4 linked regions of the Homo sapiens genome follow. The protein of the gene in region 4 interacts with the protein of the main gene of each other region in a pairwise test. Each region holds a gene or a part of one and is shown on either strand. Other genes may lie near its edges. The genes, in order: REP15, SRRM4, TNFAIP8L1 and ZRSR2.

Region 1 (6,630 bases), on a different chromosome or scaffold from region 4:
TGTGAATACACCTTCCTTACTGCAAAGGCTAAACAAGTATTATTAAAAGGAATAGTTTTATAGGTCACTGTTTTTAAATCATAGGCAGAGCTAACACTAAAGTGAATCTCAAAGTAAATCCCATCAAAGTCCTCTCAGTGCAGAGACAGCAGCTAGGGAGAAGACAGAATAAGGTAAGTGTTAGAGGAAAAGAACGCTGTGAGTTTTGTGCAGGAGTCCTGAACCCAAACTATTTTTTTTTTTTTAAAGATGAGGATTCACTCTGTTGCCCAGGCTAGAGCACAGTGGTGCAATCACAGCTCACTGTAGCCTTAAACTCCTGGGCTCAAGCGATCCTCCCACCTCAGCCTACTGAGTAGCTGAGACCATAGGCATAAGCCACTGTGCCTGGCTTGAAACTGGCATTACAAATGTAATTAAACCTGCTCTGTAGCCTTACCCACTACTTTATCCTACCCATCTCCCACCAACAGATGCAAAAACACATTTTATACTTTTGAGTGCTAGACTTATTATTTCAAACAGACACTTTTTTTTTGCAAATCAAACTTTAAATGTGACTTTATTATCTCTCTTCCATTTTTATTATTGAATAAGTGAATGAAATATTAAACTAAATTATAACTTTTCCTGAACTGTTTTTAAATCATAGGCAGAGCCAGGGTTTTCTTTTTTTCTCTCTCTCTCTGTAATTGCGACATGAATGTACTTTGATCCCAGTAATCATTTTCAATCAATGGGAAAACAAATGAAAAAAAATCCCATGCTGGAATGATGCAAATAGGTGAGCTTGCTTATTAGAATCTTTTTTTCTTTTCCTCTTACAGGCCACTCACATAATACATATCCAAGTCAGAGAATGCTGATATAAACCTTGCCCACCTCTCTCAGCCCGTCTTTCTTACTCAGACAATTTCTGAGCAGCTCTTTGATGAACACACAATCTTCAGTTTCCAGGACAAACTGAGCCACAGCCTTCCCTCCTGGCAGATGGCTCCTCACCATCTGACTTTTGACACTGTCCAGGACAACTCCCCTGATGTCTTTAGGCTTTCCTGGCATACCAAAGATGATAAACAGACCCAGGCAATCCTCTCCTATTAAGTTACAGAATTCTTCCAGCTTATCAAATCTACTTTTCTTCCAGGAAGACTCCTCTACCCTTGATTCTGGATTGGAAAGGTCACAAGGCTTAGATTCCACAGGAGGAGGTGAAGACATCTGCAGAGTCTGTACTGCGAGCTGAAGCTTTATTTGCTTGTTGGATCCCCAAAAGGTCCAAATCCAGTCTGCACCAAACAGGAAGGCTTGGTGCTTGGTCATCTTGGTGGTGGTCAGCCACTCATCAACTCCCTTTTCTTGGCAGAAAGTGATGAAATGGATTAAGAAGATCTCATTCAGAGTATTTGCAGCTGGGCAGAGTTTACTTGGAGGATATTCAAATCCAAGGTACTCCTTCAGTTTCTGAGCTGCATGGACTATAGCTTCACTGACCACCTCACAGACGACGGGCACCTCTTTGCTGTCCTTCAGAGCCAACTGTTGCGATGCTTTCTGCCCCATTTTCTCTGCATCCAAATATCAAACATGTGAATCTGGTTCAGACGTACTTCTTTTTCAAAGTAAAAGTTCTGCAGGGAGGCCACATCTGTTAATGGTTCATGTTTTTCTAACTCTACAGCTTCCTCGGGTGTAGTTAAGCATATATACATACAGCTAAATAAACATGTTAGTTCTCTCTGTTTGTCAGTTGGGTGTGTTGTGTTCATACAGTTCCTGCTGGTTTATTAAGTTAAAGATACTAAATTTCACACAAAACATCTGTTCTATCTAGGTTATATTCACTCTACTTTTAATCTTTGGTAATCTCTTCCAACATGTTTCCTCTTTCCAAGTTTTAGTTGAAGTAAAAATAGCACGTTAGTTCTTTTTGTTTTTGTTTTTTGAGACAGGGTCTCACTCTGCTACCCAGGCTGGAGTGCAGTGGCGCAATCATGGCTCACTGCAGCTTCAACCTCCCTGGGCTCAGGTGATCTCACCTCAGCCTCTTGAGTAGCTGGGGCTACAAGTGTATACCACCACACCTGGCTAATTTTTGTGTATTTTTTGTAGAGGTGGGGTTTCACCATGTTGTCCTGGCTGGTCTCAATCTCCTAGGCTCAAGCAATCCTCCCGCCTCGGCCTCCCAAAGTGCTGGGATTATAGGCATGAGCCACTGCACCCAGCCCTATGTTAGTTTTTTAAATATCCATACACCTCTTTCTACAACTAACTTCTTCCAATCTCTAGGTGAGTCATTTCCATTTGCTTTTCCTATTTTCTTTTTTTGTTTGTTTTTGTTTCTTTTACCTTCTGCCATGATTCTTCATTCCCCAGCTCAGTTGCTTCTTTTCCTACAAAAGCTTCTCAAACAAAGGCCTCAAATTCCTATCTGTTGATACACATTATAAACTCCATTCGAACAAATTTATGGCAGTTTATAAAGAGATTGTGTTATTTTCTATGTCAGAAACAAAGCCTGTTACTATGAACAACGGAAAATGAAATAAGGGCAATAAAAATGAGGCAATTATCAATTGACTTTATTTCCTTTCATATGGTAACACCAGCAGTGTATGATATTTGTAAATAAAATACGTCATAAAAAAATTTAACCTTATTACCTATTATCAGTTAGGTTATACCATCCTGAATAAAAAATATTTGGGCCGGGCATGGTGGCTCACGCCTGTAATCCCAGCACTTTGGGAGACCGAGGGGGGCGATTCACGAGGTCAGGAGATTGAGACCTTCCTGGCTAACACGGTGAAACCCCGTCTCTACTAAAAATACAAAAACAAAATTAGCCAGGCGTGGTGGCAGGTACCTGTAGTCCCAGCTGCTTGGGAAGCTGAGGTGGGAGAATGGCGTGAACCCAGGAGGCGGAGCTTGCAGTGAGCTGAGATTGTGCCACTGCACTCCAGCCTGGGCAACAGAGCAAGACTCCGTCTCAAAAAAAAAAAAAATGGCGTCTGTAACAGTTTCCTGGTATTTTCAACCAGGTTCTAAGAACAAATTGATTTTTTGAAGTGGTGACATCTAGTCACATTAAAATAAAATCCAAATAAAGTAAGTTCAATACAGTTACCACATAATGAATGGTAGAGTTTAAAGAAAATTATTATTAGCATCAAATCAATTGTTATGAATAAATAGTAATTTGATATTACAAGTTCTTTAATGAATACCTTGGTAACTTGCTGACAACTTAAAAGATAATACCACTGATATTCAAATACAGTTTATAATCAAGTCCAGTGGCAGATACTGAACCGCCCACCTCCACCTCAATTTGTGAAAACCTGTCTTTTGTAGGGTTGGCTACCATGGGTAATTACGCAGCACTGAATAAAAAATAGAATATTTTTCTAATACTTCTACAAATATAATAAACACAGTAACAGTTTTTGCTGCAGCGATTTTCTTTACAAAGAATATTTGGGCCCAGTGCTACAGAAAAACATGAACTACATCTTATCGTCACAAAATAGCCATTATAAAATGAATTTTGCAGCCTCTGTTTTTTTGAACTTTGAAATAAAATGTTCAGACAAATATTCAACTTTTTAAAAACCTCCATTCATTGATAGCCTGAGAAATGTACAATGAACATGTTTAGGCAGACTGCTAGTATTTTGCTGTAATGACACAGTTAACAAAGAGAAAAGAAACAATACTGTAAAGGTTTCTGCTTTGCTTTTGGCTTCCTCAAAAACTATTTCTACAAATTTTGGGGAGAGGAGGTGATTCTGAATGTATTCAAGTTAGTGGTAGGCCAGGCAGAGTGGCTCACACCTGTAATTCCAGCACTTTGAAAGGCTGAGGTGGGAGGATCACTTGAGGACAGGAGTTTGAGACCAGGCTGGACAACATGGTGAGACCCTGTTTCTACAAAAAAACTTTTTGAAAAATCAGCCAGGTGTGAAGGGTGGGGTGGGGTGGGAGGCCACACACCTGTAATCCTAGCTATTAGGGAAGCTGAGGTGAGAGGATCACTGGAGCCTAGGAATTCAAGGCTGCAGTGAGCTATGATCACGCCACTGCACTCCAGCATGGGCAACAGAATGAGACTCTGTCACTAAAAAAAAACAATAATAATAAAAAAATAACAGGCTGGGCGTGGTGGCTCATGCCTATAATCCCAGTACTTTGGGAGGCTGAGGCGGGCAGATCACAAGGTCAGGAGTTCGAGTCCCAGCCTGGCCAATATGGTGAAACCCTGTCTCTACTAAAAATGCAAAAATTAGCCAGGCATGGTGGTGCATGCCTGGAGTCCCACCTACTTGGGGCTGAAGCAGAATGGCTTGACCCAGGAGGTGGAGGTTGCAGTGAGCCAAGATCATGCCATGGCACTCCAACCTGGGTGACAGAGCAAGACTCCATCTTAAAAAAAAGTATACTAATGTCCCTCAAGTTCTTCCATATGAGGTAAAGGGATCCAAGATTAAGGTTGAAATTCTTAAACTGTTCAACAATTTTGTGGTGTCATCAAAAAGGAATATTTCATATATATTAATTTAGCCTCAATGATCAACATTGTTAAAAGTCAGTATGGAGAAAGATCATTCTGACCTCTTCAGAAACCAGCTGGTATATGAACATTCTGATCACCAGATTGTTTTGAAAACGTGATCTTTTCACCATCGTCCTTAGGTCACAAAATAAAAGTTCTATTTTCTATGTACTGTATATATACATATATTTAGAAAAATATATAAAAATAAGACAATAAGAGGCAAGTGGAGGTGTGGCTGGCATTTAGTGGGCACACTGAATGCTTAAAGAAGTTCCACATATTGATTCTGAAATCATATAATGTCCTACTTAGGTGGCTACAGTGAACACTGATGTAACAAAATCATTCACATCCTGGTTACTGTTCCTCAAATCCTCCATACCGCGGATATGAATGGAAACACTCTGGTAAAATACTCATCTTAAATGCAACACTTTAAATATAATATATCACAGATTTTTACATTAAATAGAAGAAAAACAATTATACTCTCATTCACCAGTGTCTTATTTTTTGTGGCAACTTCAGAATCGGCACATTACTCCTGCTTTCTGTTTAAACTTCTCGACAGCAGAAGTTGGAACAACAAACAATAGACAATCCGCTGCCTGTTGTATATACTGTGAGTGTTTGGAAAAGCAAGTAGAAAAAAGACTAAGCACTCCTAATGTTCATCCAGGTGCTACGGTCAAACGTTTGAGTCTTCATCTGTAATGCTGGCACTGGGGGAACGGGCAGCAAAATCTTTAAACATGTCATCTTCTTTTAACATGTGCTGGAAAACAAGGAGACAGGGAGTCACACTGAGAGCCAAGAGCTCAGAGCTACACATTCTCCAAGAGACATGTGGTCCTTTGGGGTTGTTATAAAAGACATTTATAGAATAACATTTTCAATTCATTTCACAAACTCACCGTCAGATTGTTGATGCCTTCAGAGAATGCACCTATCTGTCTCACTGTCCCTTCTGAATCTTCCATCTGCAAATAACAAACCATAACATGACATAAGTGTTTTCACAATTTCAGGGAAAGTGCAGCAGGAGGAACAAAAGTCTAAGAAGAAATAATGCAAATAGCACTGAATGGGGTAAGAGCAACAGAACACTTCTGGTGATAATCTCCTTTCACCACTGCAACTGGAAGTGAAAAATTAGAAGAGACACTTTACTGACACAGCTAGTCTAATGCCTTTGCTAATAGTAGCAAAGCATTGTTGATTAGAGGGGAAATATGCGGTCCCACGACTTTAATCTGAAAAGGCTAGGTAGAATAACCTGTCCATTCCTAACATGTTTTAATACAGAGATGGCAAAATATTGGTAAATATGACAGGCTTTGGAGCCAAAGAGACAGGTTGGGGACCTTGGGCAAGTTACTTAGCTCTCTGTGCCTCAGTTTCCTTATCTCCAAAATGAGAATAACAATGCTCTCCATGTCTTAAGGTTACCATAAACATAGTATGCATTAAGTGCTTAGGATGGTACCTGGAAGATATAAGTGATCTCTAAGTGTTCACTATTATTATCTGTATTTTTAGTTATTTGAAGAAAATGTCCTTGATCAGACACAGTATACAAAGTTCCCATTTAGTGTCTGAATGATGGAAGAACTCGCAAAAAGTTATACAGTGTTGGATTTACCTGCTCTAACCGGTCCAAATCATCTTCCTCATACAGGCGCATATCCAAACCAGGTTTAAATCCTTTCTTAGATGCACTTCCTGATGCCTGTCCCAATTCCATTGGACAAACATATTCTTCACCATCTTCCTGTTTCTTCTTTCTCAAATTCCCAAAATTGCTAAAGGCAAGTTTCTTTGGCTTTAAAAGAAAAGCAAACAAAAACATCCAAAGGATTTGATAAAATTCATATAATCAAGGCCTGATAACATGTGATTTTTTTTTGCGTTGCCCCCTCCCTCCTATATGTATAATTTAATTATTTACCCCATGGTAGAGAGAAAAGTAGCTGGATGTTTAAATATGGATAAAAACAAAAGGGCATCCTAGGCATATAAATGATGCAATGATAAATGACCCTTGTTATGAATCTCAGGAAATTAACCTTATTCTT
Region 2 (7,029 bases), on a different chromosome or scaffold from region 4:
GAAGAGCAGCTATTTCAGGTTTTTAATTCTATGAAAAATGACTCAGATGGCTCCACAGAAAAGGGACTCTATATGGTGCAGTGAATGGAAATTCTGATAATATCCTTTCAAAGTATCCAAAAACAGGTTTCATCTTGACTCTTTCTTATATCTCTCAATGCATAGCCAAAGCATAAGTTGGCAAAAGCACATTTTTCCAGTGACCATAGCTGGACACTGCTGAGGGCACTGAGAAGGGAAGAGCTATTCCTGCCCCTGTTTTCTAAAAGTGGGAGGCATTAACAGAAAGCAAAGAAGACTAGGAGGAGCATAAGGATTAGTCATGTAGATGCACAACAATATAGTCTACAAAAATCAAGAGCACTTTGAAACCAAACAGACGTGAATTAAATTTGGCTTAGAGGCAAACAGTCCTGGGTTCACATCTCTTACCAGCTGTGTTTAGCGAAGTGCATCATCTCTCTGTGCCTCTGTTTCCCCATCTATAAAATGAAATTGATAATAGTACCTAACCCTAAGATGTGTTGAGGATTAAATAATACACACAAAGCACTGGTTCAATGTCTGGCACATAATAAAATATGTCATAGTCATAGCTAACATTTCCTATGTCCTGTCTAATTGATACTTAGCATAGGTGCCAATATGCTATGTGATTTACCCGAATTCACTCATTCAATTTACAATTGTCTAGGGTAAGGACTATTATTACCTGCATTTTATAGACAAGAAAACGGCCCAGGGAAACGAAATCATCTGCCAAGGTCACACAGCTAGTAAGTGGCCAGGATAGTAGGCACAAAATAGAAGTTGTTGGTATTATTATTAACCACCGGTGGGGAGGGGCTTTCATTCTTTGATCGGGGCCCAGTTCCTCTGCCTGGCTTCCAGAAAGAAAAAGGTCACTGCCCAGGGACCCGCTGAATAAAGCTCAAGCCGTCTTGGATAACCCAGGCGGACACTCAGCAGGCTCCTCAGAGGCTGTTACCTCTCCCCCAGGTCCTACTCCCGCTCTCCCAGCTATTCCTCCAAGTCTGGCAAGAGGAGCCCGCCCAGCAGAAGCTCTAGGTCCCGCCGCAGCCCTAGCTACTCCCGCTACAGCCCCAGCAGGTACCGGCCCCGCCCCTCAAACTAGGCCCGTCCTAGGCCCCACCCCTTTGCTCTGATCCTCCTCTCTGGCCCCGCCTCCCCGTTCTCGGGCCTTCTTCCTCTTAGGTCTGACCCTGACTCAGCATTCTTACAGTTCCCTTTGTCCAATCAGGAGTGGCAGCGAGGCATCAAATACCCTTGTTTCCTAATGTCTCCAGCCCAAACAGTCCCGCAGACATACCCCAGAATTCACATCCCCAGCCCTCAGCCTCTACAGACCGTCCCCATATTCAGAGCCCCCAGTTCTTACCCACGCACCAGGGCCTGCGTAACATTCACGTCCTCACCCCTGCAGCACCTGCCCTGCTATGATGCCCACCTGCAAATGCTGACACCCCTGCACAAGCCCAGCCCCCACCCCTACGGTACTAACAACCCTCGCAGACTCTTACCGCAGCCCCGTCATCCTCCCTCCGGTCTCCCTTGCGGCAACGTGCAGACCCCATCCCGTGACCCAGTGGGGTGGGAAAGAAAGGGAGTGTCCCTCTCCCACGCGCTCACGCAGAAAATCCAGCCCAGCCCCAGCTCCCCAGTAACCCCCCGCGCCCCTTCAGGGAGCGGGATCCCAAATACAGTGAGAAGGACTCGCAGCAGCGGGAGCGCGAGCGAGCGCGTCGGAGACGTCGGTCCTACTCGCCTATGAGAAAGCGCCGGAGAGACTCCCCGAGCCACCTGGAGGCCCGGAGGATAACCAGGTGAGGCCAGGGGGCAAGGGGGACCCACCTTCATCCTCGTTCCCACTCCCATTCTTACTCATTCGAGCCTCAGGCTCTCCCTAGGCCTCCTTGGGGCTGGGATTTAGGATTGTGCGAGCTTATGGTCCCCCCAACCCCAACATCATTGAAATTACGTGTCTGTTCAAAGCCTTGGGACTGAGTCTCCCAGCTCAACCAGCAGGGCCTGCAAGAAGGGGGCGGGGCCAGCCTGAAGAATCGGGTGTGGCATGGGGGAGTGGCCAAAGCCTGAGGGTGGAGCTGGGGCCGGGGAGGTGGAGCTGGGGCCGGGGAGGCGGAGCTGGGGGAGAGAGTGGCGTCAGGCCAGGGAATGGAGGCCAAAGCAATGGAGCAGGACCTTGGCCTGGTGGTGGATCCCGAGCAGCGGAGACAGACCTCTACCCTCAGACCTGTACACTCAGCTGTCAGGCTTAAATAAACCTATATGTAATTATACCTTGAACCAAGTGTGGAAAGGACAAACAGGATTGCTTAGTTCCCAAAGGGACCTAGAGGGAGCCACGGTGGATAAGCCGGAGAGCACTGGATGTGGATTGGAATCCTGAATGTACCACTTTGCAGGTGACCTAGGAAAGGCTCTTACCTTCCTGAGCCTCAGTTTTCTCACCCATGAGATATTGGAAGAAATAACTCCCAGAAGCATGAGGATGAAATGAAAAGGGGCAAAAAGATGTGAACGTGCTTTGTAAACTTGAATGCAGAGTACACAATGTGCCATTGTTGATTGAATGGTCAGAATAGGTGGATACCGTTCCTGGAACAGGTAAGGCCTCAGAAGAGAAAAGCTCTAGCAGAGAAGTCTGAGTGCAAGCAAATTTCTCAGGCCTTGAAAGCTGGGAGAATGATTGAATGCTGCCCTAAGATTGGGTTGGGCTCTTCCTGCTGGCCTTCCAGGCATCTGCCACTCAGTCCAGACACTGGACTGAGGAATCAGGGATTCTCCCTGGAGATGACCTGGAGGAGGAAAAAGAATGTGTTTCCCAGATAGCAAGGCTGGGGTGATGGGTCCCCTTCTCCAATATCCCACAGGGCACCCTGCCTCAGCTTGTAAAGAATTCCTAAACCCTTGGGAGGCCAAGGCAGGCGGATTGCTGGATCTCAGGAGTTTGAGACCTGCCTAGGCAATATGACAAGACCCTGTCTCTACCAAAAATACAAAACACTAGCCAGGCATGGTGGTGTGCACCTGTGGTCCCATCTACTTGGGAGGCTGAGGTGGGAGGATCATTTGAGCCTGGAGTGGGGTGGAGGTTGCAGTGAGCCGAGATCGCACCACTGCATTCCAACCTGGGTGACAGAGCGAGACCCTGTCTGAAAAAATGTAATTAATATAATATAATACAATATAATTCCTAGCATAATTTCTAAACCCACTCCCTTGATCCAGTGTCACACAGCTATTAAGTGGCCAGGATAATAAGCACAAAATAGAAGTTGTTGGTATTATTATTATCTTTGGGGTCAACCTAGAGGAAAGCTAAGATAGAGAGTGGCATTTCCAAATGGCTGTCTAGTTTCTTTAGTCAATCTCAAATAATTCATCTTGATTAACCCATTCAGTGTTTCCCAATCTTTAGTCATTCACCAGTATCTTGACCACATATGACTTGTCTGTTTATCAACTGTACTATTCTTAATTTTCTTTAAATAGATATGACTCTTTTCAAAGGTTCATACATTTATTTCTAAAGGAAACGATACAGTACAGTAAATGGAAAATTAGCCTCTTTTGCCATAAATAGATGGTTCTAGTAAAAGTAAAAATAGGAAAACAAAACTATGATTAAAGTTTAGATGTAGATTCTGTTGCAAGCTGAAGGCTCTGAGCTCCAGGCTTGCTTCATGGGGGAAAGAAAAAAGTGAGATAATCATTTTTCAAGACATACTAGCACTAAGCTGAGACTTTTACTTTGATGTGTTCTCAGCACTGCAAGAGAAGTGGAAAGGGAGTATTTTTTCCTAAGGGACTGGGGAAAGGGAGGATATTGGTTTCCCTTGGGACAAGACTGGGGCTCGCTGCGGGGAGGCACGGAGGGGCCGGCCCTCATCCCTCCTCTCTCTGGTCTCTGCAGTGCCCGGAAACGCCCCATCCCCTACTATCGGCCCAGCCCCTCCTCATCCGGCAGCCTCAGCAGCACCTCCTCCTGGTACAGCAGCAGCAGTAGCCGCTCGGCCAGCCGCAGCTACTCCCGGAGCCGGAGTCGGAGCCGGAGCCGGAGACGGAGCCGGACCCGCACGAGCAGCAGCTCTAGCTCCCGCAGCCCTAGTCCGGGCTCCCGCAGCCGGAGCCGGAGCAGGAGCCGGAGCCGGAGCCGGAGCAGGAGCCAGAGCCGGAGCTACAGCTCAGCAGACAGCTACTCCAGCACGAGGCGCTAAGTGCCCCTGAGCCAGCTGCCCGTGGGGGCCCCTTCGCGCTGCCAGCCTCCCCCAACCACCTGCCCTCCCCGCCTTCTTGGTGACAAATAGTGAGGGCTCCTATACCTTGTCCTTCCTGCTTGCCTAGGGGAAGAGGAGAAGAGGGTAAGGGGGCTTCACTCTCTAGATCAGCCTGCTAGGAGCCTCTACCAGCATCATCCTGGGGCCCAGCTCAGGCCTGGGCATATGGAAAGAACCATCATCTTGTGGCACAAAAAAAGAAGAAAGAAAAGAAAACTTCAAGGTTTTGTGAGAAGCAATGGGTCTGTGACTCAAAAATTGAGCCCTGGCCAGGAAAATGTGGAGACAGTTCTTCTCCTCCACTGCTCACAGGAGGCCCGTGGTAATTCTCCCCACCTCCCCGGATGCCCCACTAGTCCAACTTCATGGCTGCACGTGGATGGACCCCCATGTCTGAGAGGGGTGAAAGAGGAGACCAATGGCAGTTCAGGTTCAAGATAACGGGGTCAGGCCTTTAACTTCCTCAAACAGGCCCAAGCAAAGGCTGGAAGACATTTGGGTCCTAGAAGAAGGGATATCCTTGAATACCAGATGGGGACGTTTGACTTGGTGGGAGGTGTCAGGAGATAGGAGTTGGTTAAGATGATAGATAGAAAAACGGAAGGGTTCAGCTGCTGCTCCCAATACCTCAGCATGGTAAGGGGACAGAGCCCAGCAGATCCCAGCTGTGAAGAGGCCACTGCATGGCTGACACAAAACACCTCTTGGCCATTCACAGGGGCCCTGCAACCTCACGAGAAAGGAGATAGTGGAAGAGTCAGGACAGGTTGGTCTCCAGCCCCACTTCCCAAATATGCCTCAGCCCCACTAGCTGGCACCAACTTAATTCCACGGGACCATCTGCTGAACATTCCCCAGTGCCATGGCCAGTTGCCAGGCCCCAGCGCCAGCCAGTCTGGCCTTACCCTCCGGTTGGCGCCTGCCAGCCCCCTCCCCTCTGCCCAGGCTGCCACGCCCTGGATGCCACCCAGTGCAGCCTGGCACCTACCCACCCACCCTTCAGCTTAAGCCACTCCCCTTGCCTCTCAGGAATTTTGCCAGGATGGGGCACAGCAGCTCAGGTTTGGGGGAAAAGACCCGAATCCAGAGTGCAGGGGAGAGGGGCTTGGATATGCCATGTCTTGGGCTCCTGCTGGCTTCTGAGGTTTCTTGTCAGCTTGGGAAAGACCCACCTTTATTTTTGCCCTCACCCCAAGTCCCCCCTGGCTGGGGCTGGGCAGAGAGGGTAAGCTGATCTCCGATCCACAAATACCACCAGCTGCTTCATCCACAGAAGGCGCTAAGAACGGGGAGGTGAGGAATAAGATCCTTAAAATAAACTCTTGGGCATCCCCCTCACCAGCTGACTGGCTTTCCGGAGGCTTGTGGGTGAGTTTCAAGTTTGTGGTGGCAACAGCAGCAGGACAGGGCACGGAGGGAGCGAGGGAGAGAGGACCGGTCCCAGCTTTTGGATATTTTGGGTTATGGGGAAGCAAGGGCCAAACATTCTTTATCCCTCCCACCCCAGGGAAAACATTTGGAAAATAGTCCTTTTTCTTGGAAGCAGTGACGTCTCCCTACCCAATCTTTCCCATCCTATCAACCCATGGGGCTAGAGACTGCCATGCAACCACCACCACGACAGCCCTTCCTCCATCAGAAGACAGGAGTGAGGGCCCCGGGCAGCAGTGGACGACCCAGCCTCCCCATACCGGGCCTCTGGCCCAGACCTAAGCCCTGCCCACAAAGACTAATGGATGCCAGTGCTGTCACTGCAGAAGGCCAGATGGCAGGTGCCTGGGACAGGGGCAGGTGCCCCGGGGAGGGCAAGTACAGCCACTGTAAATAACCCTCGTCCCTGCCCAGGAACCCAGACTGGACTTCAGTCTCCCTCCATGGAGACAAAGGCTTCCCAGAGCCACCAAAAACCTTCTTAGCAGGACAGCTGTGAGAGGCATCAGAACCTCACGTTCGGACTGCCTTCATCAAGACAACTCTAGGGGACCATTTTGCCTGGGGCTCCTAGCAAACCTTTTTATTTATTTTATTTATTTATCTATTTATTTATTTGATGACTGTCTCTCTTTCTCGCCATTAGCAGTATTGAATTATTTATTTATACAGAGGTTTTGTGTGTGTGTGTGTGTGTGTGTGTGTGTGTGTGTGTGTGTGTGTGTGTGTTGGGGGGATCTCCTAAATTATTTCTGTGCATCTCCTTTTTTTTTCTGCTGTTTTTTATGGATGGGATTTGAGAGGCCAAAGGTGAGTGGGCTATTGGCCTTCTCCCTGAAGGCTCTAAGCCTGGAACACCCTGGGGTTGGCCCAGAAGGAGGCACATCAGTCCCAAAATTCATCACTTAACCCAGCGTCCAGGAGGGTCAGGCCTGTACCCCAGCCTCCTGTCCCCCAGGAACCTCACAGGGGTATCAAAAAGATGTAAACAGCCCAGAGGCTTATGAGCTACAGTGATGAATTGACACAGTGGAGTTGCAACTTAGGTGGGGGTTGGAGTCGAAAGTTGGCAAATGGGGCCAAGGCTGCACAAAGTCGAAATCCCTTGTGAATGTCCCTTAGGGAGGCACCAGATTGGAGACAGATGTGCTATCTCCTAACAGAGTGATGAGGCTTCAGTTGAGTACTTGCTGAAGTAGTTGCCTTGTATTTTGAGGGCCATGGTGGATGAAAATGATGTCTGGTTTAGTACTGGAATTGCACTTGGGGTTGACAAGGT
Region 3 (6,582 bases), on a different chromosome or scaffold from region 4:
AAATATCAGGGTTGCCCTCTAAGACTCACGGCCAGTTGAGGGCGTTAGGTGGGGAAGGCACAGGGAGTTGGGGTTCAAGGGCGTTGAGAGCCAGTGGTTACTGTATTGCTGTGTGGTCTTGGGGAAGTGGCTCAGCCTCTCTGAGCCTTTGTGGTCTCTTCTGCAAAACAGGCAACCTGCCTAGTACATGGTGGCGATGACAAAGTGGGCACACATCGCTGACTCAGGGTCTGCCACGTGGCACTGAGTCAACAGCACCCCTCTTCTGGCCTAGGCCTGTGCAGAGCCAGGGTCTGGTGACCGAGGTCGGAGGGCAGGGGCGGCCCATCCAGCAATTCCCGTGCCTGCCCTGACCTCAGAGGGCGGCCGAGGGTTTGGAACTTCTCCCGGAGTCTGAACTCACACAAAGACCGGCTTTGTGGGGGCTCCTGGGGTAGGTGGGTGCCCACATGGCATTCCAAGGCTGGCAGCCTGGCGCTGGGGTGGGAGTGGAGGCTGAGCAGGGTCTGGGGCAGTGAGAGAGACCGGGGGCGGGTCTCAGGCCCTCCCTCCTCCGCCAGTTCTTCCACACTCCCCTCTTCATTCAGCAGATGTTTCTGGAGTCTGCAGGGACACCGTGGATAAGGAATTGGGCCCATGACCTCCCCTGTGGCCTGGGGTGAGGCAGACCAGTTGGGGTGCAGAGCTGGGGAGCAGAGGAGCAATGGGGATGCCTGGGGAACCTGCGGCTCAGAGGAGGCAGAGACTTGGGGGCCAAAGTGATGGGGATGTATAGTTTACCAGGGAAGAGGCAGGGGCTTGGGGGCCAGGCTTTGGGGGGTGTATAGGAGTTCACCAGGGAGGAGATGGGGCCTTAGGGTATTGAGGTCCACAGGGAAGAGTCAGGGCTCCAAGTGAGGTGTGGAGCTTGGTCCTGGGAGCTTTGAGGAGCTGTCAGCTTGTTCTCAGCAGGTAAGGGCTATGCCCTACTCTGAGATTTAGGAAGAATTCCGGAGCTGCAGGAAGGAGGTGGGTGGAGGGGGAAGCTCCAGGGCTGGGGAAACTGGGCAGGCTACAGGGCAGGGTGGACAGAGAAAAGGAGCAGACAGGGACAGGGGGATGGTTCTGCAGTGAGAGGCCTGGCCCTTATGCCTCGAGAGCTGGCCAGGCTCTCACCTTGGCCACCTCCCCAGTCCCAGCCTGGACGGGGGCTGTCCAAGTCAATGTTTCCCTGTTGGAGGAATCATCGGAGCCATGCCTTCCCAGAAACCCCACAAATGGCCCCCTGTGAACCCATCACCCCCTGGCTCACTCGGGGCTGAAGGCCTTGGACATGCCTGTTATAAACCCTGTCGGGGGCCAGGTGTGGTGGCGGGCGCCTGTAGTCCCAGCTACTCCGGAGGCTGAGGCAGGAGAATGGCGTGAGCCCAGGAGGCGGAGCTTGCAGTGAGCCGAGATCGTGCCACCACACTCCAGCCTGGGCGACAGAGGGAGATTCCATCTCAAAAAATAGTAATAATAATAATAATAAAATAAATAAATAATAAATAAACCAACCCTGCGGGGGCAGTGGGACTGGAGGCACTGCCATAGTAATGGGGCTCCTCCACCCTGAACAGCCCCGGGTCTGGGGCTCACTTGGAACCCCACCTCATGGAGCTGTGGGGTGAGGGTGGGGAGTGTTGAGCTGGACCTAGGGGATGGAACGGAACCCCCTGTAACAATCACCTTGAGCCCCTTCTCAGCTCATAGCAAGGATATGATGGGTTTGAGGGCTGGCATCAGACCCTACAGATAGTGGGGTTCAGAAGGGCCTTCTCTGTTTGTTTATAATAATAATCATAATAATAAATACAAAATAAAATTTTTGATTTTTTTTTTTTAGAGATAGGGTCTTGTTATGTTGCCCAGGCTGGTCTCAAACTCCTGGCCTCGCAATTCTCCTGCCTCAGCCTCCCAGAGCACTGGGACCACAGGCATGAACCACAGGCTTGAATTATAGGCTGCAGTGCGGTGGCATGGTCTTAGCTCACTGCAACCTCCGCCTCCCGGGCTCAAGGGATTCTCCTGCCTCAGCCTCCCAAGTAGCGGGGATTGCGGGCACCCATCACCAAGCCTGGCTAATTTTTGTATTTTTAGTAGAGAGAAACATGGGTTTCACCATGTTTGCCAGGCTGGTCTCGCACTCCTAACCTCGATCTCAGGCGATCCGCCTGCCTAGGCATCCCAAATTGCTGGGATTACAGGCGTGAGCCACTGCGTCCGGCATGACACTTTTTAAAGAAACAAATTCCGTTAGGCCCTCTGGGGTCTGTGGTGTTGTCACCTCTTCTGTGTGAGGAGTGCCCCAACGTGCAAAACTGAGGGCTGGTCTGTGTCCCCCGCAGGCCATGGACACCTTCAGCACCAAGAGCCTGGCTCTGCAGGCGCAGAAGAAGCTCCTGAGTAAGATGGCGTCCAAGGCAGTGGTGGCCGTGCTGGTGGATGACACCAGCAGTGAGGTGCTGGATGAGCTGTACCGCGCCACCAGGGAGTTCACGCGCAGCCGCAAGGAGGCCCAGAAGATGCTCAAGAACCTGGTCAAGGTGGCCCTGAAGCTGGGACTGCTGCTGCGTGGGGACCAGCTGGGCGGTGAGGAGCTGGCGCTGCTGCGGCGCTTCCGCCACCGGGCGCGCTGCCTGGCCATGACGGCCGTCAGCTTCCACCAGGTGGACTTCACCTTCGACCGGCGCGTGCTGGCCGCCGGGCTGCTCGAGTGCCGCGACCTGCTGCACCAGGCCGTGGGTCCCCACCTGACCGCCAAGTCCCACGGCCGCATCAACCACGTGTTCGGCCACCTAGCCGACTGCGACTTCCTGGCTGCGCTCTACGGCCCCGCCGAGCCCTACCGCTCCCACCTGCGCAGGATCTGCGAGGGCCTGGGCCGGATGCTGGACGAGGGCAGCCTCTGAACCCCGGCGCCGCCCAACCGCGCCCCTCGCGCCTTTTGGGGCTCTCCTGCTGGGCGCGGGTGGGGTTTGTGGGTTTTTTTCCACCTCTTTTCTCCCAATCGGACTCCGGCCAAACTCCCCTAGACAGATGGGTGACCTGTCTCCTTTGAGAGGATGCTGAGGCATCTGTAGCAGCTGTTTCAAACACCAATGTCACCTCTCCTCCTGGCCCCCGCCCAATGGGGAGAGGAATTTGGGGCCCTACTCTGGGGACCACCTTTCACCCGTTTGTACTTTCTGGGCCACGCCGACCCCTGGGTCGCTTGATGTAAAAGCCAAAAGCTGCTGCCTCCCACTTGGATCATGTCGCCTGGGATTTTCATCCCTCGCACAAGGACTACGGGTTCACACGGTGAACTGGGGGAAGGGAAGTGTTAGGGGGCAAGTCGCGGCACCCCCCCTTCCATAAACTCACGTCCTAACCCCCAGGACCTCAGAAGATGATCTGATTTGGAAATAGGATCATTACAGATGGAATTAGTTCAGATGATCTCATCTTGGAGTAGGGTGGGCCCCAATTCAAGGACTGGGGTCCTTAAAAAAAGGGGGCCTGGGGCAGGGCGCGGTGGCTCACGCCTGTAATCCCAGCACTTTGAGAGGCTGAGGCGGGCGGATCACGAGGTCAGGAGATCGAGACCATCCTGGCTAACACGGTGAAACCCCATCTCTACTGAAAATACAAAAAATTAGCTGGGCATGGTGGCACATGCCTGTAGTCCCAGCTACTCGGGAGGCTGAGGCAGGATAATCACTTGAACCAGGAGGAGGAGGTTGCAGTGAGCCGAGATTGTGCCACTGCACTCCAGCCTGGGTGACAGAGCAAGACTCTGTCTCAAAAAAAGAAGCGGGGGAGTGGGGGATTGAGGCCACGTGCAGTGGCTCACTACTCTAATTCCAGCACTTTGGGAGGCCGAGGCAGGAAGATTGCTTGAACTCAGAAGTTCAAGACCAGTCTGGGCAACATGGTGAGACCCTCGTCTCTACAAAAAAAAAATTATCGTGGTGGGCCGGGCGTGGTGGCTCACACCTGTAATCCCAGCACTTTGGGAGGCTGAGGCGGGCAGATCACAAGGTCAAGAGATCGAGACCATCCTGGCCAACATGGTGAAACCCCGTCTCTACTAAAAATACAAAAATTAGCCGGGCATGGTGTTGCGTGCCTGTAGTCCCAGCTACTTGGGAGGCTGAGGCAGGAGAATCGCTTGAACCTGGGAGGCGCAGGTTGCAGGGAGGCGGAGGTTGCAGTGAGCCGAGATTGCACCACTGCACTTCAGCCTGGTGACAGAGCGAGACTCGTCTCAAAAAAAAAAAAAAAAAAAAAAAAAAAAGTGACTGTGGTGGTGCACACGTATAATCCCAGCTACTTGAGAGATGACGAGGGAAGATCACTTGAGCCCAGGAGTTAAGAGGCTGCAGTGACCGATGATCATGCCACTGCACTCCAGCTTGGGTGAGAGTGGGACTCTGTCTTAGAAAGAAAAAAAAAAGTATTTGGACACAGACATGCATGCAAGGAAGGCCAATGATGCCGGCCACCACCAGGAGCTGGGAGAGGCCCAGGGCAGATCCCCTTCAGCCTTGGAGGGACCTAGCCCTGGCCACACCTTCATCTCAGACTTGCGGCCCAGAGAACTGAATGAGAATAAATGTGCGTGAAGCCCCTCAGTCCACAGGATGTGGTACTGGAAGCCCCCACTCAAGAAGGCTCCAGTGAATGCTGGCACGTTCAGCCAGGATGCCTCCGTGAAGCTGGAGACCTCTGCCCTGGGTCGGGAGGGGAAACTGCTCCAATCCAGGGACTGCCACATGGGAGGGGACGGAGCGTGCCCACCTCCCAGGGGTGAGGGGGGACCCACCTGAGATGTGTGCACATTTTATTTATTTATTGTTTTGAGACAAAGTCTCGCTGTGTCACCCAGGCTGGAGTGCAGTGGTGAAATCTCGGCTCATTGCAGCCCCTTCCTTCCAGGCTCAAGTGATCCTCCCACCTCAGCCCCGGGTAGCTGGGACTACAGGTGTGCACGAGCACACCCGGCTAATCTTTGTATTTTTTGTAGACAGAAGGTCTCACCATGTTGCCCAGGATGGTCTCGAACTCCTGGGCTCAAGCGACCTACCTACCTCGGCCTCACAAAGTGTGCACATTGTAATATCGTGATTTCATATTTGGAGAATCAGCAACCAACCAGCCAACCATGTTGCTTTTATAAGACAGAGCTGAGAAAGCAAAGCTTGGCTGTCGTCTTGGCTCTGGTACCACCCACGAGATGCGGGCGATTCTCAGCTCAGGGCGTGGAGGCGTGGTGTGGGGGAGTCTATTTGCCATTTTTGTTTGTCAGCAGGGGGCAGGGGTTCTCAAAGATTGCAAAATGCTGCTGCAGGTCAGGAAGGTTATTTTGGGTGCCTGTGGGGGAGGTGAAACAAGGTCCCATGACTGTTTTGCAGAACCTTGTCTGTGGAGGGTAGAGGTTGCGGCAGGGGCCTGTGGGCCTTACTTGGTGAGAAGGTAGGTCTAGCTGGCTCCATTCAGTATTTGAGACATTTGGAATTTGTCTGCATTTAAAACCAAGAGATCACACACACCTGTCTGGATTTGGAGTTTCTCTTGAAAACTCGCCAGTCCGGCCGTCTGAGCCTGCACTGACGCCTGGTGAAGCTGTGCAGGGGCCGCCCCTCTCCCTTTCACCACAGTCCTCTCCACTCCCTTTCGCCTCTCCCTGGCCTGCTGCACTCACTGATAGGAAATTCTGACCCCAGACTCGGAGCAGCCTTCCCGTGGTTCGGTTTTTGCTTCCGCGAAAAAGCCAAAGGCCTTGGCCAGAGAGCCAGCTGTTCCTACCTCTACCCCACGCTTCCAAGGCAACCTTCTCCACTTATCTTAGGCCGAGAGACAGCTCTTCAAGAACGTACATGGATCCTGATTTTCTCACGAAGTCCCGATGGAACCCTGTGCTGTTGAGACATCAGTGTGTAAAACTCTCTGTGTCCCTGTTGGGCTGTCCAGACAGTCTGGACTCTTGTAAATTTGAGATTTAATTAAAGGAAACAAACCAAATAGGACTGCGGAACAATTTAAATAAAAGCACACACCAGCCTGGGCGCAGTGGCTCATGTCAGTTAAACCTAGTGCTTTGGGAGGCCGAGGCAGGAGGATCACTTGAGCCAAGGAGTTCAAGACCACCCTGGGCAACATAGCGAGACCCTATCTCTAAAAATATATATATATAAGGCCAAGTGCAGTGGCTCACGCCTGTCATCCCAGCACTTTGGGAGGCTGAGGCAGGCAGATCACCTGAGGTCAGGAGTTCAAGACCAGCCTGGCCAAGATGGTGAGACCCCATCTGTACTAAAAAGTACAAAAATTAGCTGGGCATGGCGGCGGGTGCCTGTAATCCCAGCTACTTGGGAGGCTGAGGCAGGAGAATCACTTGAACCTGGGAGGCGGAGGTTGCAGTGAGATGAGATCGTGCCACTGCATTCCAGCCTGGGCAACAGAGTGAGACTTGGTCTCAGAAACAGAATAAAAAAATAAAAAATTATAGCCAGTCAGGGTGGCATGCACATGTGGTCCCAGCTATCTGGAAGGATGGCTTGGACCCAGGAGGTTGAGGCT
Region 4 (7,029 bases):
ACTGCGCCTGACCTGTAATTGTTTTTGAAAACAGAAAAAAAACAAAAAAAATTAACAAATGTAAAAAGGGAAAAGACTTTAATAATTGCAACACACCCAAAGATAGCCACTGTTAAGAAAGAGAAAAAGAAAGTGTAAATGTACTTTACGTGTGTCTTTCTATAATGGCATGATATTTATACATATTTTTCTATAAATTGCTTTCTTGCTAAATATATAGTGCATTTATTTCAGTACTGATGCAGGGATCTAATTCAGCCATTTCAGTGGCAATACAGTACCCACTGTACAGATGTAGCATAATTTATTTGCTATTCATAGTTTATTCATTTATAATTTATAGTTCTCTACTGATGGACTTTCAGGTTATATTGGTTTTTCACTCATATGTAAAAAGTTGCAGTAAGCATCCATGCTTATATATCCTTGGTAATTGTCCAGTTATTTCCTTAAGAACATGACTAAAAATGAGATTGTTGGAATCAAATCATAAGTCCATGTAAAATGTAGATGGCCAGGTAGAAAGGGCTTCCTGGTTTGCAGTTTGCAGCCCTTCTGGCAGTGAATGTAGGGGCCCATCTCCCCATACCTTCACTCATACTAGGCATTATCAGTTTATAAAACTATAATGAAACTGTTTCAAATGCACATTTCTGAATTAGGTAGAGTATCTTTTTATATGTTTTATTACCTATTTGTAGATTGCTCAAGTCTCACACCTTTCTCTTTTGGGATACATGTTTTTTTAAAATTTGTTTTTGTTTTGTTTTGTTTGAGACGGACTCTCGTTCTGTCACCAGGCTGGAGTGCAGTGGTGTGATCTCCGCTCACCGCAACCTCCACCTCCCAGGTTCACACGATTCTCCTGCCTCAGCCTCCCGAGTAGCCGGGATTACAGGCACGCACCGCCACACCCAGTTAATTTTTTTTTGTACTTTTAGTAGAGATGGGGTTTCACCATGTTGGCCAGGATGGTCTCGATCTCTTGACCTCATGATCTGCCCGCCTCGGCCTCACAAAGTGCTGAGATTACAGGTGTGAGCCACCGCGCTCAGCCGAAATTTCTTAATGTCTCTAAGCTTCTATTTCCTTGTCTGTAATATGGAGATAAAGTCAATCACAGTATCCACCTCACAGAATTGTGAAGATTAAAGGAGGTGATGGATGTATAGTGTTTAACACAGTGTCAGCAGATGAGAGGTGCTGTGATAGCTCTAGTTCTTATTATTATAGATTTCTGTTATGATGAAGACAATAGATACGGTATGAAATAAGAGAGTAATTTTTTTCCTGTTTATTTGAAATGCTTCTTTTAAATCACATACATGTATCTTTGTGCTCCTTAGATCTTTATTTCTTTATGAGTTGCATACTATTATTGAAAAGCAAGAAAATTATGTAAAAATACTGTATGACTTTATGTCCTATTTCAAAGCAGATGTATATTCAAGTTATTAAATTTTAAAATTTTTAACATTTTACTTTCTTGTGGTCTTAATTTATATATCATTTGGTTCATTTATATACAATTATATGTTTTTCAAAAGATTTGTAAATCAGAGTTGTGCCCACTGAAACATCTATATGGTACCCTCACACATGGCATAGGAACACTGATAGATGCAATGTGCCAGCCTCTGCCATGGCTAAAAGATGTGTTCCTGGAATCTGTATTTGGAAATGTAATATATTTTATTTAAAATTGTGGTTAGGTCCCCAGACTAGACATAAAACTTTACTGAACTCCTAATACTGCTGAAGTAATATAGAACAGTTTCTCATATTTAATTTCCCTTTTATAAATTCAGTGGAAGAATGAATTTGAGGTTCTACACACCTAATTGGCAGGTAGACTTTGGCAATCTAACCCCCTCTTTATATTAGAAATTTGTGATATTGGATGTCTGAGACACTTGCCACTTTAAGGTAATACCACTCATTATAATTGGTCATATAAAAAATAGACTAGACACTCACTAATTTATTTTTATTTTTTCATTTTTTGAGACGAAGTCTCGCTCTGTCACCCAGGCTGGAGTGCAGTGGCATGATCTCGGCTCATTGCAAACTCCGCCTCCCAGATTCAAGCGATTCTCCTGCCTCAGCCTCCCAAGTAGCTGGGATTATAGGCGGCTGCCACCACGCCTGGCTAATTTTTGTATTTTTAGTAGAGATGGGGTTCACCATGTTGGCCAGCCTGGTCTCAAATTCCTGACCTCAGGTGATCCGCCCGCCTCAGCCTCCCAAAGTGCTGGATTACAGGTGCGAGCCATTGCGCCCGGCCCTCACTAATTTATTTTTATAACTCCATTTCTTAAAACCTGTAGCTTTATTTTAAAAACATGATTACAATGTACTTTTATTTTCCTTCTTTTGGCTGTTTAGGTGTTTGGAGGCAAACCACAGGAGTCTCTTAACTGTGTGTAGTAGTAGTCCAAAGGTTTATGGCAAAGGATACTGGGTTTTCAGCGTGCTGCCATCATGGAATTGCTACTTTTAAGAATAGGGGCTGGGTGCAGTGGCTCACACATGTAATCCCAGCACTTTGGGAGGCCGAGGCAGGTGGATCACTTGAGGTCAGGAGTTCGAGACCAGCCTGGCCAACATGATGAAACGCTGTCTGTACTAAAAATACAAAAATTAGCCTTGCGTGGTGGTGGGCACCTGTAATCCCAGCTACTCGGGAGGCTGAGGCAGGAGAATCACTTGAACCCGGGAGGCAGAGGTTGCAGTGAGCCAAGATCATGCCACTGCACTCCAGCCTGGGCAACAGAGTAATACTCTGTCTCAAAATAAATAAATAAATAAAAATAAATGCATAGAATAGGAAGGGAAATGCTTTCTGAATATGAAAAGGTAGATGCTGCTTTGAAACTTGCTACCCATTTTATTGTCACCTAAACATCACTGTGATCAGTCTAGAGGGAAAGTCATAGTGTCCTTTTTTCTGTAAAGTATGTCACAGCCATATATACCTATGAAATGTAAGAGAGATTTTAAGTTATTACCCATTAGGAAGATAGTTGCTGACACGTGGTGCTTTTCCAAAAGCTCTGCTCTTCTCGTTCTCTTACACCCACTTGACTGCTTTAATAGAAAATAGCTTTCGTGATATTTGAATCAGTCCCAAAATGTGTCATTTTGCTCTCGTGTGTGTGTGTATTTGTGGATTAATGCCCATTTCTTTTATCTGATTACATCATTATACTGATAGGCAAAGATTACATGAGGAGTGGTTGCTAAGAGAGCAGAAGGCACAAGAAGAATTCAGAATAAAGAAGGAAAAGGAAGAGGCGGCTAAAAAACGGCAAGAAGAACAAGAGGTATGGTAGGAATCACGTAACTAGTGAACAAACTGATTACTTCACCATAATAACTCTCATGAAGAGTTGCCTATCTTGGGAGGTTGGAGTGAGCTGAGATCACGCCATTGCACTCCAGCCTGGGCAGCAAGAGCGGAACTCCATCTCAAAAAGAAAAAAAAAAAAGAGTTGCCTATCTTGAACTTAAAAAAAAAAAACAAAAAACTGATCTTATTCAGTTTGCCAGTGTTTTAAGTTTTTCATCTATGTGCGCTGTATGTGAAATGTTTTTAAAAAGTGACTGAAACAAAGTTACTTTTTCTTCCCCTTTAAAGAGAAAGTTAAAGGAACAATGGGAAGAACAGCAGAGGAAAGAGAGAGAAGAGGAGGAGCAGAAACGACAGGAGAAGAAAGAAAAAGAGGTGATTCCTGTCATGGGATGTGCTGTGTGATGAGTTTGAAGAATAATCAGTAGGCATGTCAGAGTTTGGGTTTTTTTTTTCTCTTTTTCTTGTCATTTCATTGTTTGTTTGGAAAGAATCATATTTCAGTTTAGACATAACACCAGAGTTCCCTTCTGATGCTCTTCTTCGGGTCCGTGCAGTGGCAGATTCCTTAAAGTTTTCTTCAGCTTTACCCTATTTACCCTTTATACTGGGCATTGGCAAATGTTGTAAAGGGCCAGATGGTAAATATTTTAGGCTTTATGGTTTGGTCTCTGTGGCAAACATCCAACTCTGCCAGTGTACCCTGAAAGCAGCCATCGATAATATGTAGATGAATGGGTATGGCTGTGTTCCAGGAAAGCTTTATTTACAAAACAGGCAGCTAGCCCTTGCTTTATAGCAAGTTATGTTCTTCTGAGGTTCTGCTGTATATGAGTTGACTTCTTTAGAGAATAATACTTTGTTTTGTTTCCACATTTATTTAGGTCATAAGAGAACTGCTTATGACATGTCAGCAAGAATTAGAGGATTTAAAGAAATCAGGAACTCAAATATTGAGGAACTAGGAAACAGTTTTTGTTATTTGTATTAAATCTTGACTTCCTCTTCCACTTAGGCTATGAAGATAATTGTAGCTAACACACAGTTGCTTATTTAAAAAAAAAAAAAAATCTGTGAGGCATATGTGTGTATGTATCTTCTCTATCTTCCAGGATTCTTTTTTAAGGATTGATTTGGTATGTTTTGCTGCTATTCCTTGACAGTATATTTATTTCAGAGGTATCACAGCTCATCTTCCCTTGACTGATTCATCAGGATTTGTCTTTTTTGTAATACAGCTAAATTTAAATAGCATAAAATTGGATAATCACCTTATAATTGGGAAAAATGCATGTGTCTTCATTGTAGTCAATATGGGGCAGAAGCAGCCTCCACGATCTTTGTTTTTTGTATCTTAGGCCATCAGTTAATTTCAGTGCAGATTTTAAACACCTTTATTTGAGCACTTCTTTCCAGATGAGGCAAGTTCATGCTAGGTTTTTAGGGGGCAGAAAAATTGTTTGGAACTTGTCATTTTTTTATAGAGAGGAATTAATTCCCATTTTAACAGTAGAGTGTTCCTCAACTGAGGTCTTTCAGGAATTCAGTAACAGCTAAGGCCTCTTTTGAATGCTTTTGTTTCAGAGGAAATCTGTGAGACTTCAAGGAGAAATGAGGGAAATGAAATAGATTCTAAGCTTATAAAAAAGAATCAGCAGTATGTGTTCCTGCTGTATGCTAGACACTTCGCTAGCGGACAGAGACAGAGCAGTGAAAGACACAGTCTTTGCTCTCATTGAGCTAGTTTTTTATATGGGAGTGTGAGATGATAAGCAAAACAGATCATTCAAAATGTGATCATATTAAGTGCTATAAAGAAATAAAGCAGGCCAGGCGTGGTGGCTCACGCCTGTAATCCCAGCACTTTGGGAGGCTGAGGCGAGAGGATCACGAGGTCAGGAGTTCGAGGCCAGCCTGGTCAACATGGTGAAACCCCGTCTGTACTAAAAATACAAAAAATTAGCCAGGCGTGGTGATGGGCGCCTGTAGTCCCAGCTACTCAGGAGTCTGAGGCAGAAGAATCACTTGAACCGGGAGGCAGAGGTTTCAGTGAGCCAAGCTTGAGCCACTGCACTCCAACCTGGGCAATAGAACTAGACTTCGTCTCAAAAAAAAAAAAAAAAAAAGAAAGAAATAAAGCAGAGTGATGTGATAGAGTAATGAGAATAGAGTTGTGCTTCTATAGATTGCCTGCTCAAGGAAATTTCTGAGGAGGTGATGTTTGAGCTGACACCTGAGTGGAGAGATCTCAGCAAGAAGAAGCCTGAAGCTTGAAGGCTGAAAAAAGGCCAGGGAACCTGAAATCTAGAGTCCAAAGGAGAGAAGGGCAGTGGAGGAGGTTGCTGAGGGAGAGGGGGCAGTGGAGGAGGTTGCTGAGGGAGAGGGGGCAGTGGAGGAGGTTGCTGAGGGAGAGGGGGCAGTGGAGGAGGTTGCTGAGGGAGAAGGGGCAGTGGAGGGTAAGCAGAGTCAGATCATGTAGGGCTTCCTGGATTTGAAGGAGGAGTTTGGATTTTATGTTTCCTATAATGGGAAGCCATTGAAGGGGTTTAAGCAGGGAATGACTCTGTCTCATTTATATCTGTACCTTTTAACAGATCATTCATTTAAAAAAAAAATTTTTTTGAGATGGAGTCTCATGCTGTCGCCCAGGCTGGAGTGCAGTGGCGTGATCTCTGCTTACTGCAACCTCTGCCTCCTGGGTTCAAGCAATTCATATGCCTCAGCCCCCCGAGTAGCTGGGATTACAGGTGCCTGCTACCACGCCCAGCTAATTTTTGTATTTTTAGTAGAGACAGGGTTTCACCATGTTGGCCAGGCTGGTCTCGAGCTCCTGACCTCCAGGGATCCACCCGCCTCGGCCTCCCAAAGTGCTCGTGTGAACCACTGCACCAGACTTTTTTAACAGATCATTTTTACTTTACTGAAACCTCTGCCTCCCGGGTTCAAGCGATTCTTCTGCCTCAGCCTCCTGAGTAGCTGGGACTACAGGCGCCCATCACCACACCCGGCTAATTTTTTGTGTTTTTAGTACAGACAGGGTTTCACCATGTTGACCAGAGGACAAGGAGAGAGAGAGGAATTCAAGTCATATTTTTAGGTTTTTAGTTTGAATAGACAGATAGACTGGCAACACTATTCACTGAGGGAGCATTCAGGTGGATGTGGGCCAGGGAGTGTAGAGGACAAGAGTTCTGTTTTGAGCACCACAAATAAGCAACTAGACATACGAGTCTTATGTAATGCTTTAAGGGGCTAGGGAAGATAAGACTGTCTGTTAAACATAGGTACAACTTGTTCAAATGCCAATTAGGTAGAAATTTACTGGCATATTGCAGAACCTCCTTTGCCTTATTAAAAAGTTAGAATTTTCTCCTAAATGCTAATTACCACTGGTCATGTCATATTTTAGCTTCTGCTAAATGTTTATGATTTCATCTAGCATTGTTTTTTGGGTTTTTTCGTTTGTTTGTTTGTTCGTTTTTTTTTAGACAGAGTCTTGCTCTGTCGCCTAGGCTGGAGTGCAGTGGCGTCATCTCGGCTCACTGCAACCTCTGCCTCCTGGGTTCAAGCGATTCTCCTGTCTCAGCCTCCCAAGTAGCTGGGATTACAGGCACGTGCCACCACACCTGGCTAATTTTTGTATTTTTAGTAGTGACGGGGTTTCACCGTCTTGGCCAGGC

The links.
Region 1: the proteins of ZRSR2 (region 4) and REP15 interact in binary tests that used the Homo sapiens proteins (3 or more experiments, as listed by UniProt).
Region 2: the proteins of ZRSR2 (region 4) and SRRM4 interact in binary tests that used the Homo sapiens proteins (3 or more experiments, as listed by UniProt).
Region 3: the proteins of ZRSR2 (region 4) and TNFAIP8L1 interact in binary tests that used the Homo sapiens proteins (3 or more experiments, as listed by UniProt).

Annotation. Positions count from the first base shown.
Region 1 is NC_000012.12:27,691,496-27,698,125, reverse strand, and holds REP15 (rab15 effector protein), read right to left. Parts: upstream 1,680-6,630; 5' UTR 1,564-1,679; coding exon 853-1,563; 3' UTR 530-852; downstream 1-529. Other genes in the region: PPFIBP1 (liprin-beta-1), read right to left, coding at 5,244-5,330, 5,470-5,535, 6,198-6,377.
Region 2 is NC_000012.12:119,152,540-119,159,568, forward strand, and holds part of SRRM4 (serine/arginine repetitive matrix protein 4), read left to right. Parts: intron 1-999; coding exon 1,000-1,110; intron 1,111-1,703; coding exon 1,704-1,844; intron 1,845-3,955; coding exon 3,956-4,259; 3' UTR 4,260-7,029. UniProt on the Homo sapiens protein: Splicing factor specifically required for neural cell differentiation.
Region 3 is NC_000019.10:4,649,501-4,656,082, forward strand, and holds the end of TNFAIP8L1 (tumor necrosis factor alpha-induced protein 8-like protein 1), read left to right. Parts: intron 1-2,366; 5' UTR 2,367-2,369; coding exon 2,370-2,930; 3' UTR 2,931-6,068; downstream 6,069-6,582. UniProt on the Homo sapiens protein: Acts as a negative regulator of mTOR activity.
Region 4 is NC_000023.11:15,800,474-15,807,502, forward strand, and holds part of ZRSR2 (U2 small nuclear ribonucleoprotein auxiliary factor 35 kDa subunit-related protein 2), read left to right. Parts: intron 1-3,214; coding exon 3,215-3,323; intron 3,324-3,637; coding exon 3,638-3,724; intron 3,725-7,029. UniProt on the Homo sapiens protein: Pre-mRNA-binding protein required for splicing of both U2- and U12-type introns. Selectively interacts with the 3'-splice site of U2- and U12-type pre-mRNAs and promotes different steps in U2 and U12 intron splicing.